Regions from separate parts of the Homo sapiens genome. Here region 1 is linked to region 2. Evidence: fine-mapped expression QTL. Tissue or cell type: whole blood. Region 2 holds a variant in brackets; the other region holds the start of a gene. All regions are shown on one strand. Distances are between the middles of the regions.

Region 1 (9,515 bases), 85 kb after region 2:
GAGTCCATCTCTAATGTAATTTTTTTTAAAAAAATCCTTTCCAAAGTATTAGTCTTCAGTCAATAAAAACCTACCAAGGTGTCAAAAACAACCTATTTTTATTGAACACTCATTGAAACCATGTGCAACACTTCCATAACTCACATAGAAATATATTAGTATTACAATGTATTAAAACAGCTAATAAAATATTACATAATAAAGATATAATAACATAAAATTTATTTTCACTCTGTGGTGAGTGGACTACACTCTCAAGTATGATGAATCATTATTAATACATTGAAGTTACTGATCTTAATCTGAAATTTTCATATTTTAGGATATAGTAAAAGTAACTCAATTCTAATTAATCTCCAGTAGAGAAGTTGTTATCCAAGAGAGGTTTATGCAATGAGGGGATATTTCTATTGGAAAGCCATTCAGGGAAATGTTAATTTTTTTGTTAAAAAAGCTAAAATTCCTAAGATAATCTTCTAGAACAATGTTAACTTTCTAAGAATTAATATTTGTGGAAGTCACAGATTCATAAATCACATTAATACAAATAAAGATCTAGATGCAGCAAGAGAAATTAGCTAAGCTTTCTATTTGGGCATAGTATACAAATAGCAAACATATCAACCTAATTCAAAAAAATACTTAGCACAGAGCCAGGCGTAATAGTAAGTTCTCAATATATGCTAAATGAAAAGAGTTTACATACCTCCTTCACTTCCTTGAAAATGCTTACAAATTCTTCATTGATGGCTAAACTTTTACGTTCAATATCTCCACGTAAATTTCTTCGAGTCCGCAGACTATTTTCAACAAAAAAGGTTGAAAGTGCCTTGAGAGCTTCTAACATCTCCTATACAATTGGTAACAGAAGACAGTTACTGGAACTAATTTTTAAATGGTTTCAAATCTCAAGACAAAATGTAATGAAATCATTTTCAAATGATTTATTTTCATTAACCAATCCGAAAAATATTGAATGACCTTCAAATTACTGAAGCATGCTTATTTCCAGAACACAAGAAGGGTATACTTACTTGTGTATAGTGTTATATATACAAGATTATTCACTGCAGAATTGTTGGGAATTGCAAAGACTAGAAATAATATAAATGTCCATCTAAAAGGGATTGGTTAAATAAATTATGATATACTCATTCACAAAAAAAAAATCTTTATGCACTTACGTAGTATAAGCTTTGAGATATGTTAAGTGAAACATCAAGGCATAGAAACAGTTGTAATACCAACAGTTAAAAACTTAAAAGGAATATATACATGCATACTTACTTGTGTATACCTAGTTGACACATATATAATGTGCACATTAACTATCTCTGGAATGATCTATTTAAGAATAAGTACTGGAATCCTCCAGGCTAGAAACTGAATAACTGGAAGTAGAACTTGGAGAAACTTAAAGGGGAAGGCCTCTCTGAGGTGACTTTGAACTGAGGCCTCAGTGTAGGCAACAGCCAGTCATGGGGACAAAGCCTTCCACAGACAGAGCAAACAATGAGTACAAAGACCCTAAAGTGGTAGAAGGAAGGCCACTATGACTGAAGTTATGAGAAATTATTACGATTTTAGGCAGGGGAGTAATGTAATACGATTTATATTTATAAAAGTTTATTCCAACTTTGTAAGGAAAATGAATGGTAAAGGGGTACAAGAAAGGAGGTAGGTAAGAGAAAAAACAAAAATAATCCCAGTATGGTTTGATAGTGGCTTAGACCAAGATGGCAGTAGTACAAATGAAAAAGAGATATTCCAAAATATGGCACGGTGGCTTACACCTGTAATCCCAGCAGTTTGGGAGGTCAAGTTGGGAGGATAGTTTGATGCCAGTTCAAGACCAGCCTGCATAACATAGTAAGACCCCTATCTCTATAAAAAAATCAAAAAATTAGCCAGGTATGGTGGCATGTGCCTGTAGACCCAGCTACCTGGGAGGCTGTGGCAGGAGGATCGCTTGAGCCAGCAAGATCAAGGCTACAGTAAGGCCATGTTCTCTCCATTGGACTCCAGCCTGGGCGACAGAGTGAGACTTGGTCTCAAAAAAAAAAAAAAGATATTCCAAAAATATTCTTCAAAGTAGAACCTATAAGATATGTTTGTGGATTTGCAGGAGATGTAAAAAAAAAAAAAAAAAAGTGACAAGAATCCAAAATTATTCATATGCTTCTTGCTTGACTGGGTAAATGGTGACGTTCTTTAGTGAGAGCGGAACCAGTTTAGGGAAAAATCAAGAGTTCCGCCCATGTTAAGTTCTATGACGTCAATCAGTATCCAATTGGAGGTATAGTATAGACAACTAATTCTACAAATCTGGAGCTCAGTAGATGTCAGAAACAGAGTTATAAATTTGAGAGTAATCATGCTTTTTGCTACTTAAAACCATGAAAGTACAAGATTTTTCTTACAGAGAAAACATGAATGGAAGAGAGAGCAGAGAACCAAGCCCAGGACATCCCCATTGTACACTAAATTCTGCAGATATACATTTCTACACCTCCACTACTGTATATTCTAGTAGGCTTACCCTTTCATGTTTCTATTTGTTATTTTGAAATATTGGCTGGATTGACAAAAACAGTAAAACTATTTATATAAATTCAATTTAATATTTCAGAGGAAGCAAAAATATGTTTACAACTATAAATACTTACTGTACAGAAAAAAAAAACCCATGAAGTGAAGCAGTTTCTTTAGACTATAGCCTTGAAATGTCCTAAGGTCTGGTTCAAAGAAGTAATCAGTAATGTTGAACGAATGAAATCACAGACTCAGATGCAAATTACAGTTCCACCAGTTACTAGTTATATGACAACCTAGCTGCACTCTCTCCATGCTTTATTTTCCTCATGGTAAAAAGAAGGTTATGTGGCCGGGCGCAGTGGTTCACGCCTTGTAATCCCAGCACTTTGGGAGGCTGAGGCGGGCAGATCACCTGAGGTCAGGAGTTCAAGACCAGCCTGACCAACATGGAGAAACCCCGTCTCTAATAAAAATACAAAATTAGCCAGGCGTGGTGGCACATGCCTGTAATCCCAGCTACTTGGGAGGCTGAGGCAGGAGAATCGCTTGAACCCGGGAGGCAGAGGTTGCAGTGAGCCGAGACTGCGCCCATTGCACTCCAGCTTGGGCAAAAAGAGCAAAACTCTGTCCAAAAAAGAAGGCCATGTTATCTATATCAGAGCAAGTAGCAGTCTTAAATGATATAATAAATATCAATATGAGACACATTAAACACTTCATAAATTTTATGATAAAATTAATATTTGTTAAGAAAGAGTAAGTGCCAGGCTCTTTGCAAAGGACTTTACCTGGAGTCTCTCACTGAGTCCTCAAATAACAACCATGAGAAACTTAACAGCAGGATTCCTAATTCCTAAACAGAAGCTGAGATTAGTGAAGGGACTTACTCAAATCATGATGCACACATTTAGTGGTTCTATCTAATAAGTGGTAGTCTCCAGAGCCCTAATTTCTTATTCATTACATTGCAATGTTATTTTTTTACATATCGGAATCAAATTGTTATCGACAGCTTATTTTCAGTTACCTACATATTCACCTATAAAACTCTCTAACTTTGACATATGTTCTTCTTTATGTTACACTGTCATGACCAATTTACCTAGCGACCCACAGAGACAGAAGAGATGGCTGGGTATGTGAGGAGCTGTAAAGTCCAACTTAAGTTTCAGGAGGTACTTGTGAGAGCATGCTGTCAGTTTATCTTCTAAAGAAATACAGCCTGAGCCCACAAATCATAGCGCTTGGCTCAACAAAAACTAGTAGATATGAGTTCATTTCAGCCACGGGCAAAGGTAGTTCTTTCGCGCTGCAAATTATTGCAATTGTTGTCACTTGTCCGTGGAAATGCACCCTTATCCCTACCACTGCTCTCTTGGTCTCCCGACCCCCATTTGCGCTACCTTATCTTGGAATCTGCTCTTTTGCATCTGTTTCATATCCAGTCTTGTGCTCTCCTCCACTCTCCCAGCTCACACAGCCAAACGCCTCCAGGGGTGTTTGGAGGACACTTCTCGAGGCACCACCGTTCACCAATCCCATCCAGAGAGCCTTGAAGGCACCTTTTCAGGTGGAGAGAACACCCAGGAAACCCCTTCGCTTTTCCGGAGGTTGCTGGGGCTCCCCCTTCTCACCGCCCCCGGCGCCCGCAGAGCAGCGGAGCCCGCAGGTCTGGGGTCACTCGCGGTCCCTCTGCTGCCGGGACGAGGGAGACCGCGGTGGGTCCCTGACAGACGCCGCCCCTGGCCCGGCTCAGCCCCGCAGGAACCTGTGACTCCGGCCCCGCCAGCCCCGGTTACCTTGTCGTTGTCCAGCCGCGTCTCCAGGATCTTATGCAGCTTGCGCGACAGCGGGTTGCAGGTCGTCGCCGAGGTCCCGCCTGCCCCATTGTTGAGGCCGTTGGCAGCCCCGGTCGCAGACACTGCGACCACTTCCCCGCTGCCCTCTGCCATAGCGCTGCGCGTCCCGCCCCCTGCTGCCACCTCAGCCAGGCAGGGACCACGGAGGCAGCGCGAGTATTGCGCATGTGCAAATCGGCCGCGCATGCGCATCGGCCCCGGAAGTCTTCGCCGGGTAACCCTGCTTGGGCTCTCAGAAGCGTGAGGGGCGGAGAAGATGTGGGGGGCGGGACAAGACCCTCAGGTAGAAGGAGAAAATTTATAGGATTAGAGAGGACTTTGGAATTATGGATCTGCGACCTTCAGAGCTAATTAGATGACAACCAAATGTAGTATGTAAAATACACCATGACTTGTGCCTGGCATATACATTCAATATAAGTTAACTGAAAGTTTAAATTACATTTGCCTTATCTGAATTCATTTTTTTGAAAATTATTTATTGAAGGCATAGTATGTGCCAGGTACTCTGGTAGGCATTGGAGAATCTACATTGTGTGTCTGAAACAGACAAAGCTGTTAATAGATGTTATTAGGTTGTGATGAGTGCTCAGGGGATGAAGTAGTACAGTGAAAGAAAATGGAGGGAAAGGCCCACTTCACTCAGGGAGGTTTGGAGAGGAGTTGACACTTAAACTGAGATTTGAAGGAGAATCAGAATGTGAGGAGAAATCATTCCCAGGCAGAAGAAAGTGTGTAAGTGTACAGGCCTCAAAACAAGATGAACTTGGCCCTGACACAAATGGACCAGAGCCCATGTAGCTGTAAAGTAATGGATAAAAATGTAACAAGTTGAAAAAACTTCCCGGGAAACTCTGGAAAACAAACATCATTGCTTTTTTTCTTTCTTTTCTCAGTTTTTAAAATTTGGATCAAAATAAAATCGCTGGGCTTCTGTGAATTATTTGTCAGAAACACTATTTGGCTCTTGTCATAAATTTTCCTTGTTTCATATATGTCTATGTACATAGTTATATTGTATATCAGACTTAAGGGAAAATTACCTATTACAGAGGTCACATAAAGAAAGCACTGACAAAACCACTCATCTCTACTCTAATGAAGAAGAGAAGGCCCAACTATCCAAAAGAAAAAAATATACAAAAAGCAGCAATATCTAGGTATGAATTCAACAAAAAATACAGAGAACCTAGATGAAGAAAACTTTAAAATGCTACTGGGAGAACATAAAACTTAAATCAATGAAAAAATATATTGTTCTCTTCAACAGGAAGACTCAATATTGTAAGATGTCTTTTCTCTTTCACAGATAAATTTAAGTTCAGTGTAACCAAAATTAAAATATCAAAGGTTTACCTAAGGTGTATATATCCAAATGAATTTGCATATATACAAAGCAATAATATAATGTAGAGCTTGCAAATATGTACAATTAAAAGGAATGACGATGATAACATGCCAAGTCAGGAGCGGTCATGAAATACCACATATTGTATGACCTCTTTATGTGAAATCTCCCAAATAGGTAAATCAATAGAGATAGAAAGTAGATGAGTGGTTCTGGGAAGAGGAGTGTTGGGAAGAGGGAATGGGGAGTGTCAGTTCATGGTACAGGTTAATTTTTGGGGAGATGAAAATACTCTAAAGCTAAATTGTGGTGATGGTTGCACAACTCTGTAAATATACTAAAAAACACTGAACTGTACACTTTAAATGAATGAATTGAATGGCATGCAAGTTTCATCTCAAATCTGTTTTTTAGGCCAGGTATGGTGGCTCACACCTGTATTCCCAGCACTTTGGGAGGCTTAGGCAGGGGGATCTCGAGTTCAGGAGTTAAAGACCAGCCTGGGCAACATAGCGAGACCCTGTCTCTACAAAAAAAAAAAAAAAAATACGAAAACTAGTCGAGTGTGGTGGCATGCCTGTGGTCCCAGCTACTTGGAAGGTTGAGGTGGGAGTATCACTTGAGCTCAAGCCTGCGGTAAGTCATAATCATGCCACTGCCCTCTACTCTAGCCTGGGTGATGGAGCAAGGCCCTATCTTAAAATTGAAAAAAAAAAAATAAAGCTGTTTATTTTAAAAAGTAAATTGGAGATAAATAGACAAAATGTTTAAGTAATAAAAAATACAAATTTATATTAATTTTTAAAATCTTTATTTAGATATAATTTACAGGCCATAAACTTCACCTATTAAAAGTATAAAATATGACAGCTTTTAGTTCATTTACAGAGTTGGCAAATATCACCATCATCTAATTTTAAGACATTTTCATTACTTTAAGAAGAAAACTGTACCCACTAGCACTCCCCATTTTCCCCTCTCTACCACCCTAGGAAACCACAAATCTGCTCTCTGTCTCTATAGATATGCCAGTTTGGACATTTCATATAAACAGAATTATACAATATGTAACATTTCATGCCTGACTTCTTTCACTTAGCATAATTTTTCAAGGTTCATCTATTTTGTAGCTTGTATCAGTGTTTCATTCCCTATTATTGCCAAATAATAATCCATTGTATGGATCTCCCATATTTTATTCATTCGTCAGATGGCTATTTAGGTAGTTTCAAATTTTTGGCTTTTATGAAAAATGTCTCTGTGAATTTTCATGTGAGAGTTTTTGTGTGGATGTATGTTTTCACTTTCCTTAGGAAGATACCTAGGAGTAGATTGTTCTTATGGTTAACTCTATGTTTAATGTTTTGAGAAACTGTCAAATAGTTTTCCGAAGTGACTGCCCCATTTTTCATTCCCACCAGCACTGTATGAGGGGCTCCAGTATTCTTCACATCCTGACTAACACTCATTATGGTCTGTCTTTTTTATCTTATCCATCCTACTCAGTGTGATATGATACCTCATTGAGATTTGGCTTTCCATTTCCTAGTGACTAGTGATATTGAGTTGTAAGAATTCTTTATATATTCTGGATACTAGTCCTAACAATTTATTGGAAAATATTTTTTCCTACTTTTGCTTGTCTTTTCACTTTCTCAATGGCATCCTTTGAAGCACAATTAATCTTAATTTGATGAGATACAACTTATCAATTTCCTTTTTTATTATTTGTGCTTTTGGTGCCTTATTCAAGAAATTATTACCCAACCTAGATCACAAAAATTTATTCCTGTGTTTTCTTCTATTACATTGGCACAAAAGTAATTGCAGGTTTTGCCATTGAAAGTAATGGCAAAAATCGCAATTACTTTTGCACAGGCCTAATAAAATTTTATAGTTTCAGCACTTATATTAAAGCCTATCTTGTACCTTGAGCTAATTTTTGTGTATGGATGTTAGGTAGGGATCCAGTTTTATTGTCTTAAATGTGGATATTCAGTTGTCTCCCACACCATTTGCTAAAAGGACTATTCTTTCTCCCATGTGAGCTTTTCTATAGATTGAGAAAAAGCCGATGATAAAATCCAATATCCATTCATGATTAAAGAAACAAGTAAACTCTTAGCAATTTGAATAAAAGGGGATTTCCTTAATTGGATTGAGAGTATATACAAAAAAAAACCCTATGACAAACATCACACCTAAGGAAATATTTAAAACTTTCTCCTTGACATCAAGAATAAGACAAAAACTATCCACTAACACTGCTATTCAATATTTCACTAGAAGCTCAAACCAGAATAATAAACTAAGAAAAAAGTCATAAAGATTAGAGAGAATTTTTAAAATTTACACTTTTTGATAGGTGATGCAATGTGTCCCTAGATAATCCAGAAGGATCTATAGAAAAAGTGTTAGAATTAAAATAATAACCTATTTCACATATTGTTTTCCAAAACTCCAAAAAGGACAGGATCTTGGAATTCAACTAGCTTGCAAAAGAAGTTGTGTGACTCTTTAGCACCTCATTGCAAAAATGTGTTTTTATGTTGGTCAGGACTTACTTCATCAATTACCGCTGCCTGTAAAGGTGATTAAAAATCCAAAATTAAAAAAGATATGGAGCCGGGTGTGGTGGCTCATGCCTGTAATCCCAGCTACTCAGGAGGCTGAGGCAGGAGAATCGCTTGAACCTGGGAGGCAGAGGTTGCAGTGAGCCAAGATTGCACCACTGCACTCCAGCCTGGATGGTAGAGCAAGACCCCTTCTTTAAAAAAAAAAAAAAAAAAAAAAAGAAGAAGAAAAGAAAAAGATACAGAGGCTGGGCACAGTGGTTTATACCTGTAATCCCAGCACTTTGGGAGATAGAGGCAGGAGGATCACTTGAGCCCAGGAATACGAGACTAGCCTGGGCAACATCAAGAGACCCCACTTCTATAGAAAATTTTAAAAATTAGCCAGTTGTGGTGGTGCATGTTTGTATCCCAGCTACTTGGGAGGCTGAAGTGGGAGGATCACTTGATCTCAGAAGGTTGAGGCTGCAGTGAGCCGTGATTGCACCACTGCACTCCAGCCTGGGTAACAGAGTGAGAATCTGTCACCAAAAAAAAAGAAAAAAGAAAGAGAGGGAGGGCTGGAGGCGGGTGTGGAGAAAAGAAAAGAAAGCAGGAGAGAAAAGAAGAAGGAAAGAAAAGGAGAAGGAAAGAAAGAAAATATTTGGGCTGGGCATGGTGGCTCACACCTCTAATCCTAGTACTTTTGGAGGCTGAGGCAGGCAGATAACTTGAGCCCAGGAGTTTGAGACCAGCCTAGGCAAGAGGGAGAAACCCTGTCACTTCAAAAATACAAAAATTTCGCCAAGCGTGGTATCGCACACACCTGTAGTCTCAGCTACTCAGGAGGTTGAGGTGGGAGGATTGCTTGAGCCTGGGAGGCGGAGGTTGCAGTGAGCCGAGATCATGCCACTGCACACCAGCCTGGTCGACAGAGTGAGACCTTATGTTTTAAAAAAAAAAAATTGATTCCAATGTTATTTAAGTTATTCTAGGATTCAGGATTTCTTAACTTTGGCACCATTGACATTTGGGGCTGCATATTTTGTTGTTGTTGGGAACTATTCTGTTCACTGTAGGATGTTTAGCAGCATTACTGGCCTCTACCTACTAAATGCCAGTAGCATCCTCCCCAGTTGGAACGATCAAAATGTCTCCAGACATTGCCAATGTCCCTGAGGGGCAAAATTGTCCGGGGTTGACAACCACTGTTCCAAGCCG
Region 2 (8,000 bases):
ATTTTCACAATACTGATTCTTCCCATCTATGAGCATGAAATGTTCTTCCATTTGTTTGTGTCCTCTTTTATTTTGTTGAGCAGTGGTTTGTAGTTCTCCTTGAAGAGGTCCTTCACATCCCTTGTAAGTTGGATTCCTAGGTTATTTTATTCTCTTTGTAGCAATTGTGAATGGGAGTTCACTCATGATTTGGCTCTCTGTTTGTCTGTTATTGGTGTATAGGAATGCTTGTGATTTTTGCACATTGATTTTGTATCCTGAGACTTTGCTGAAGTTGCTTGTCAGCGTAAGGAGATTTTGGGCTGGGAAAATGGGGTTTTCTAAATATGCAATCATGTCATCTGCAAACAGGGATGATTTGACTTCCTCTTTTCCTAATTAAATATCCTTTATTTCTCTCTCTTGCCTGATTGCCCTGGCCAGAACTTCCAACACTATGTTGAATAGGAGTGGTGAGAGAGGGCATCCCTGTCTTGTGCCAGTTTTCAAAGGGAATGCTTCCAGTTTTTGCCTGTTCAGTATGATATTGGCTGTGGGTTTGTCATAAATAGCTCTTATTATTTTAAGACACATTCCATCAATACCTAGTTTATTGAGAGTTTTTAGCATGAAGGGCTGTGGAATTTTGTCGAAGGCCCTTTCTGCGTTTATTGAGATAATCATGTGGTTTTTGTCACTGGTTCTGTTTATATGATAGGTTATGTTTATTGATTTGCATAGGTTAAACCAGCCTTGCATCCCAGGGATGAAGCCAATTTGATCTTGGTGGGTAAGTTTTTTGATGTGCTGCTGGATTCAGTTTGCCAGTATTTTATTGAGGATTTTTGCATCGATGTTCATCAGGGATATTGGTCTAAAATTCTCTTTTTTTGTTGTGTCTCTGCCAGGCTTTGGTATCAGGATGATGCTGGCCTCATAACATGAGTTAGGGAGGATTCCCTCTTTTTCTATTGATTGGAAGTTTCAGAATGGATGGTACCAGCTCCTCTTTGTACCTCTGGTAGAATTCACCTGTGAATCCATCTGGTCCTGGACTTTTTTTTGGTTGGTAGGCTATTAATTATTGCCTCAATTTCAGAGCCTGTTATTGGTCTATTCAGAGATTCAACTTCTTCTTGGTTTAGTCTTGGGAGGGTGTATGTGTCAAGGAATTTATCCATTTCTTCTAGGTTTTCTAGATTATTTGCATAGAGGTGTTTATAGTATTCTCTGATGGTAGTTTGTATGTCTGTGGTATCAGTGGTGATATTCCCTTTATCATTTTTTATTGCATCTATTTGATTCTTCTCTCTTTTCTTCTTTATTAGTCTTGCTAGCCGTCTATCAATTTTGTTGATCCTTTCAAAAAACCAGCTCCTGGATTCATTGATTTTTTTAAGGGTTTTTTGTGTCTCTATGTCCTTCAGTTCTGCTCTGATCTTAGTCATTTCTTGCCTTCTGCTAGCTTTTCAATTTGTTTGCTCTTGCTTCTCTAGTTCTTTTAATTGTGATGTTAGGGTGTCGATTTTAGATCTTTCCTGCTTTCTCTTTTGGGCATTTAGTGCTATAAATTTCCCTCACACACTGCTTTAAATGTGTCCCAGAGATTCTGGTATGTTGTGTCTTTGTTCTCATTAGTTTCAGAGAACATCTTTATTTCTGCCTTGATTTCGTTATGTACCCAGTAGTCATTCAGGAGCAGGTTGTTCAGTTTCCATGTAGTTGTGCAGTTTTGAGTGAGTTTCTTAATCCTGAGTTCTAGTTTGATTGCACTGTGGTCTGAGAGACAGTTTGTTGTGATTTCTGTTCTTTTATATTTGCTGAGGAGTGCTTTACTTCGAACTATGTGGTCAATTTTGGAATAAGTGCGATGTGGTGCTGAGAAGAATGTATATTCTGTTGATTTGGGGTGGAGAGTTCTGTAGATGTCTATTAGGTCTGCTTGCTGTAGAGGTGAGTTCAAGTCCTGGATATCCTTGTTAACTTTCTGTCTCGTTGATCTGTCTAATGTTGACAGTGGGGTGTTAAAATCTCCCATTATTATTGTGTGGGAGTCTAAGCCTCTTTGTAGGTCTCTAAGGACTTGCTTTATGAATCTGGGTGCTCCTGTATTGGGTGCATATATATTTAGGATAGTTAGCTCTTCTTGTTGAATTGATCCCTTTACCATTATGTAATGGCCTTCTTTGTCTCTTTTGATCTTTGTTGGTTTAAAGTCTGTTCTATCAGAGACTAGGATTGCAACCCCTGCCTTTTTTTGTTTTCCATTTGCTTGGTAGATCTTCCTCCATCCCTTTATTTTGAGCCTATGTGTGTCTCTGCATGTGAGATGGGTCTCCTGAATACAGCACACTGATGTGTCTTGACTCTTTATCCAATTTGCCAGTCTGTGTCTTTTAATTGGGGCATTTAGCCCATTTACATTTAAGGTTAATATTGTTATGTGTGAATCTGATCCTGTCATTATGATGTTAGCTGGTTATTTTGCCCGTTAGTTGATGCTGTTTCTTCCCAGCATCAATGGTCTTTACAGTTCGGCATGTTTTTGCAGTGGCTGGTACCGGCTGTTCCTTTCCATGTTTAGTGCTTCCTTCAGGAGCTCTTATAAGGCAGGCCTGGTAGTAACAAAATCTCTCAGCATTTGCTTGTCTGTAAAGGATTTTATTTCTCCTTCACTTATGAAGCTTAGTTTGTCTGGATATGAAATTCTAGGTTGAAAATTCTTTTATTTAAGAATGTTGAATATTGACCCCACTGTCTTCTGGCTTGTAGAGTTTCTGCTGACAGATATGCGGTTAGTCTGATGGGCTTCCCTTTGTGGGTAACCCGACCTTTCTCTCTGGCTGCTCTTAACATTTTTTCCTTCATTTCAATCTTGGTGAATCTGACAATTATATGTCTTGGGGTTGCTTTTCTCGAGGAGTATCTTGGTGGTGTTCTTTGCATTTCCTGAATTTGAATGTTGGCCTGCCTTGCTAGGTTGGGGAAGTTCTCCTGGATAACATCCTGAAGAGTGTTTTCCAACTTGGTTCCACTCTCCCTGTCACTTTCAGGTACACCAATCAAACGTAGATTTGGTCTTTTCACATAGTCCCATATTTCTTGGAGGCTTTGTTTGTTTCTTTTTACTCTTTTTTCTCTAAACTTCTCTTCTTGATTTCATTAATTTGATCTTCAATCACTGATACCCTTTCTTCCACTTGATCAAATCGACTATTGAAGCTTGTGCATGCGTCACATAGTTCTCGTGCCATGGTTTTCAGCTCCATCAGGTCATTTAAGGTCTTCTCTACACTGTTAATTCTAGTTAGACATTCATCTAATCTTTTTTCAAGGTTTTTAGCTTCCTTGCAATGGGTTCGAACATCCTCCTTTAGCTCAGAGAAGTTTGTTATTATCGACTTTCTGAAGCCTACTTCTGTCAGCTTGTCAAAGTCATTCTCTATCCAGCTTTGTTCCATTGCTGGCGAGGAGCTGTGATCCTTTGAAGAAGAGAATCTCTAGATATGTAACTAAATGGAGATATTATTCTCATTTTAAAATATGTTCAAAGAAATTTACTGTATTCTAAATAATTATTTAAAACTGAACTGAGATAAGAAATGAACTGCTTACTTCCAAAAATCAGTGAGCTTGTCATTAATCTGTACTTTAGGATTTTGGTTGCCATAACAACATGATACAACTTTCATCATTACCATAAACCCAGCATTTCCAGAAATAGACTATTTCAACATCAGATTCTGTGATCACTAAAATTGAGTTTTATTTTAGCACCGCAGTTAAGAGTGCAATCAAATGTGCCACAGGAGAAAAAAAGGCGTTAAGCCTAAAAGCCCAAGAAGAAAAGACGATAATATCCTTATGAAAAACAGATTAGTTAAAATTTTGATTTTTCTTCATTACCATATAAATATAAGAAATGTCACAATGGGTCAAGACAATTTTTCATCCTAGGTCAGCTATGTGTCTATAAATGAAATTAAAGCATATTTTTTATGAGGCCAAGCTACATATTTCAGATAAGTGTCATCTATCATCATATATGCCAGACGTCTA[C/T]GAGCATTCTTTAAAAATAATAAAATAATCTCAACACAGAAAGAGCTAATAAAATACAGTATAGTCTAGTGTTGAAGAGAATAGGGTCTAGAATCAGAAATGTTGGATACAAATCATGGCTCTACTTCTTACAAATTTTTTGACCTTGATTCAATTACTTAGTCTTTCTAAACAATATCCTCTTTTAAATTCATCGAAAGAATTGAACTAAGTAATCTATTAAAGGATCACTCTGAGTGTTCAGTTTAGGCTGCAGGGCTTGGGTGGATGGTGGTGGAGAGGGCAAGTGTGAAAATGGAAAAGTTCAGAGGTTAATGTGATAAACCAGGCACAGATGATGCCACCTTGGGCCAGAGTGCTAATTATGGAGATGTTCAGAAGTATGAGTCCTCTCTCATATACTTCTTAGATACATATTTAATGAAATGATTCCATGAGAATTTTGATTAAAGTTGGAGTTATTTACAGATTAACCTGTTACACTAGTGAATTTTTCAGTCTATGAACAGAGTATGCCTATTTAGTCAGATCTTTTAGAATTTTCAATAAATTTTTATAAGTTTCATTATATAATTTTCCACGTATATTATCAAATTTATTTCTAGGAAACAATCCTGTGACTATTATAATAAAGTCTTTTACTTTTCATTGTTATAATTAGATATTTCTGGTATACAGAAGAGGTACTAATTTTAGTATGTTAATTTTGAATCTGGCCAAGTAACAACTCTATTTTAGTTCTATTAGTTTGTTAATTGCTTGCCTTTTTTGTTTTTGGTACAGACATTTAAAATTAATAAGTTTTATTAATTCTTTTCAATATTTATGACTCAATTCATTACAATGGCTAGAAGCTCCAAGGTAAACAGATGTGACAGTAACTATGCATATATTGTTTTGAACTGTAATGAAAAGGTTTCTAATGTTTCATCATTAAGTATTATGTTTGCTGTAGATTTTCAATATTCCAACATAGTGTCATGGTACTCTTCTCTAACTGGTTTATGTAGTAAATTCAAGTAAGATTTTTCTTTGTATGCTTTGGCTATAGTGTTTCCTCTCTTGATGCAATGGAATGTTTGATTTTTTTAAATGATTTTTTATATCTTTCAGGATTTTTACCTAAGACCTACTTAAGCATGACTTTTATCAATATAAAACATTTCCCTTTGACCTTTTATTGACTTACACCCTGAATTCAATTTTGCCTGTTAATATTGCAACTCTTTCTTTCTTTGTATGCCACTTTGTTGTAAATGGTCTCTTGTAAAGGGCATATAGGTGAACTGCGGTTTGCTTTTTTTTGAAATCTAAACTGACACTCTTGTATGTTAAAATAGGGTAGCTTAAGTTATCCACATTCATTGTAAAAACTGATTTAGCTTGGAATTTATAAAGAAAAACTTGCTATGACTTTTCTAGTTCTTGCTAGGAACTTTCTAGAACTAGAATCATCTAGTTTGAGTTCTTACGTTCATCTACTTAGGATTTCTTATTTCCTTTTTTGCTCATTCTTACATTAGTTTCATGAATGTTTTATCCGTACTTAAAAACAATGTGTATTTTCTATAGTTTGTGTGTAGTATTTTAAATATTTCTATTAGGTAAAGATTGGTAGTACTGTTCAACTATGAAGCATCATGTTAATTTCCTATTTTTTTGTATCAATTACTGAGAGGACTATGCAGAAATATCTAACTGTATTTCTTGATACAGCTACTCCTCATCAATCCTGTAAGCTTATATTTCATGTTATTTGCAGCTCTGCTATTAAATGCACAGATATACTACTATATTTACTTCATGTATTAATCCTATTATAAAATGTCACGTTTTATCTCTGGTATTATTATCTGTCTGTAGTCTAATTTTTCTTATAGTAATATAGCTACTCCAGCTTTAGGATTAGTGCTTGCATGGTATATCTTTTGTCATCCTTTTAAACTATCTCCACCTTTATATTTAAAATGGACTTTTTATAGATAGCAGATAGTTGTACCATGCTTTTTCATCCAGTCTAACAATTTTGTCTTTTAGTTCAAATCTGTAGTACTTTCACATTTAGTACAGTTACTTATTAGGCTGCAATTAAGTCTATCTTCCTGCTACTTGTTTCATACTTGTCTCATTTGTTCTTTTACCCTCCTTTTTCACCTTCTTTTGATACAATTACTTTTTAAAAATTCTATTTGTTCTTATCTATTGGTATGCTAAATAACTTTATTTGTTTCAATGGTTGTGGGAAGGTTTACAGTCTACCTCCAATCAATATTATATATTTCATGGATAACTTAATATCCTTACAATATTAAAACACCAAACTTCCACTTCCCTCCCACTGCATCTTTTGCACTTTTGTTGTCGTATGTTTTATGTGTTTAAAATTCCACAATTAGGAGAAAGATGAGCAAATAGAAGCCTCCAGAGATCGTCCCCCAAGCAGGAACGCCAAATCTATCCACACAAAAAATCACCTTCCTAAGAACCAAAAATTAGGTGAGCAATCATAGTACTTGGTTTTAACATCATATTAAGGAAAGAGGCACTAAAGAGGATAAGAAAGATAGTCTTGAATTGCCTACACCATCCTTCCCCTAATCCCTGGCACTGGCAGCATGGCGCGGAGAGAGAATTTATGTGCTTGTGGAAGGGAGAAAAAAGAGTGATTGTGGGACGTAGCACTGGAATTTAGTGCTGCCCTGTCACAGCAGAAAGCAACACCAGGCAGAACTCAGCCAGCATCCACAGAGGGAGCATTTAGACCAGCACTAGTCAGAAGGGAAGCCTCCATCCCAGCGGTCAGAACCAGAGTTCTGGCAAGCCCCACCACCATGGGATAAGGTGCTCTGGGATCTGAAATAAACTGAAGGGCAAGTTTTGGGCCATAAGGGCTCTAATTCCTGGGCAAGCTTCTGTGCTGTGCTGGGCTTAGAGCCAGTGGACTTGGGGTGCACGTGACCTAGTGAGACACCAGCTAGGGCAGCCACGGGAGTACTTGCATCACTCCTCCCGCAACCCCAGGTGATGCAGCTTGTAGCTCCGGGTAAGACTCCTTCCTTCTGCTTGAGACAGAAGCATGGGAAGGACTTTGTTCTGTATCTTGGATGCCAGCTCAGCCACCTCAGAACAGAACACCACATATAATAGATTCCTAAGGTTCCTGACTCCAGGCCCTGCATCCCAGACAGCTTCTCTGGACCCACTCGGAGACAAGGGAAACTCACTGCCCTGAAGGGAAGGACACAAGCCTCACTGATTCATCACTTGCGGACTGCAGAGCCCTTGGACCTTGAGGGAACATAGGCAGTAGTCATGCAGTGATCCCTGTGGGCCTTGGGCAAGACCCAATGCTATGCTTGCTTTGGATCTCACCCAGCGCAGTACCAGTGGTGGTGCCACGAAGAGGCATGTATCACCACTCCCCCAGCTCCGAGGCAGCTCAGTACAGAGAGGGAGACTCTATTTGCCTGGGGGAAAGTAAGGGAAGAGAACAAGAGTCTACACCTGGTAATCCAGGAAGTTCTCCTGGATCTCACCCAACACCACCAATGTAGTACCCTCATTGAGTCTGCAAGAGCCACAGGGCTTGAGGTGTTCCCTAATGTAGATATGGCTGCAGTGACCAAAGACTTAATTCACAAGTCCCCTTGAATACTTGGAAAGCCTTCATAAGAAGGACAGGTACAAGGCCCAGACTATGAAGACTATAACACCCACCTCTTCGATGCCCAGACACTGATGAACATCTACAAGCATCAAGACCATCCAGGAAAACATGACTTCCCCAAACAAATTAAACAAGGCACCAGTGACCAACCCTAGAGTGACAGACATATGTGACCTTTCAGACAGAGAAATCAAAATAGTTGTGCCGAGGAAGTGCAAAGAAATTCAAGATAACACAAAGAAGAAATTCAGAATCTTGTTTTTTGTTTTTTTGAAATGGAGTTTTGCTCTTCTTG

The links. PIP is the estimated chance that this variant, and not a neighbour inherited with it, causes the effect.
Region 1: it holds the start of COG6, and the variant in region 2 is the best candidate, but not a certain one, in a credible set for the expression of COG6 in whole blood (TOPMed, PIP 0.89).

What each region holds. Positions count from the first base shown.
Region 1 is chr13:39,650,699-39,660,213 of GRCh38, reverse strand. COG6 (component of oligomeric golgi complex 6) reads right to left here and starts at 4,552. Exons shown (of 19, transcript NM_020751.3): 1 at 4,335-4,552; 2 at 707-850. The coding sequence starts at 4,487. RefSeq lists a silencer at 4,239-4,288.
Region 2 is chr13:39,736,669-39,744,668 of GRCh38, reverse strand. All of the region lies in intron 18 of COG6 (component of oligomeric golgi complex 6), which reads right to left. Among named protein-coding and RNA genes, the nearest start is that of MIR4305, 77 kb to the right of the region's middle. The variant C/T (reference allele first, on the strand shown) is at 4,039.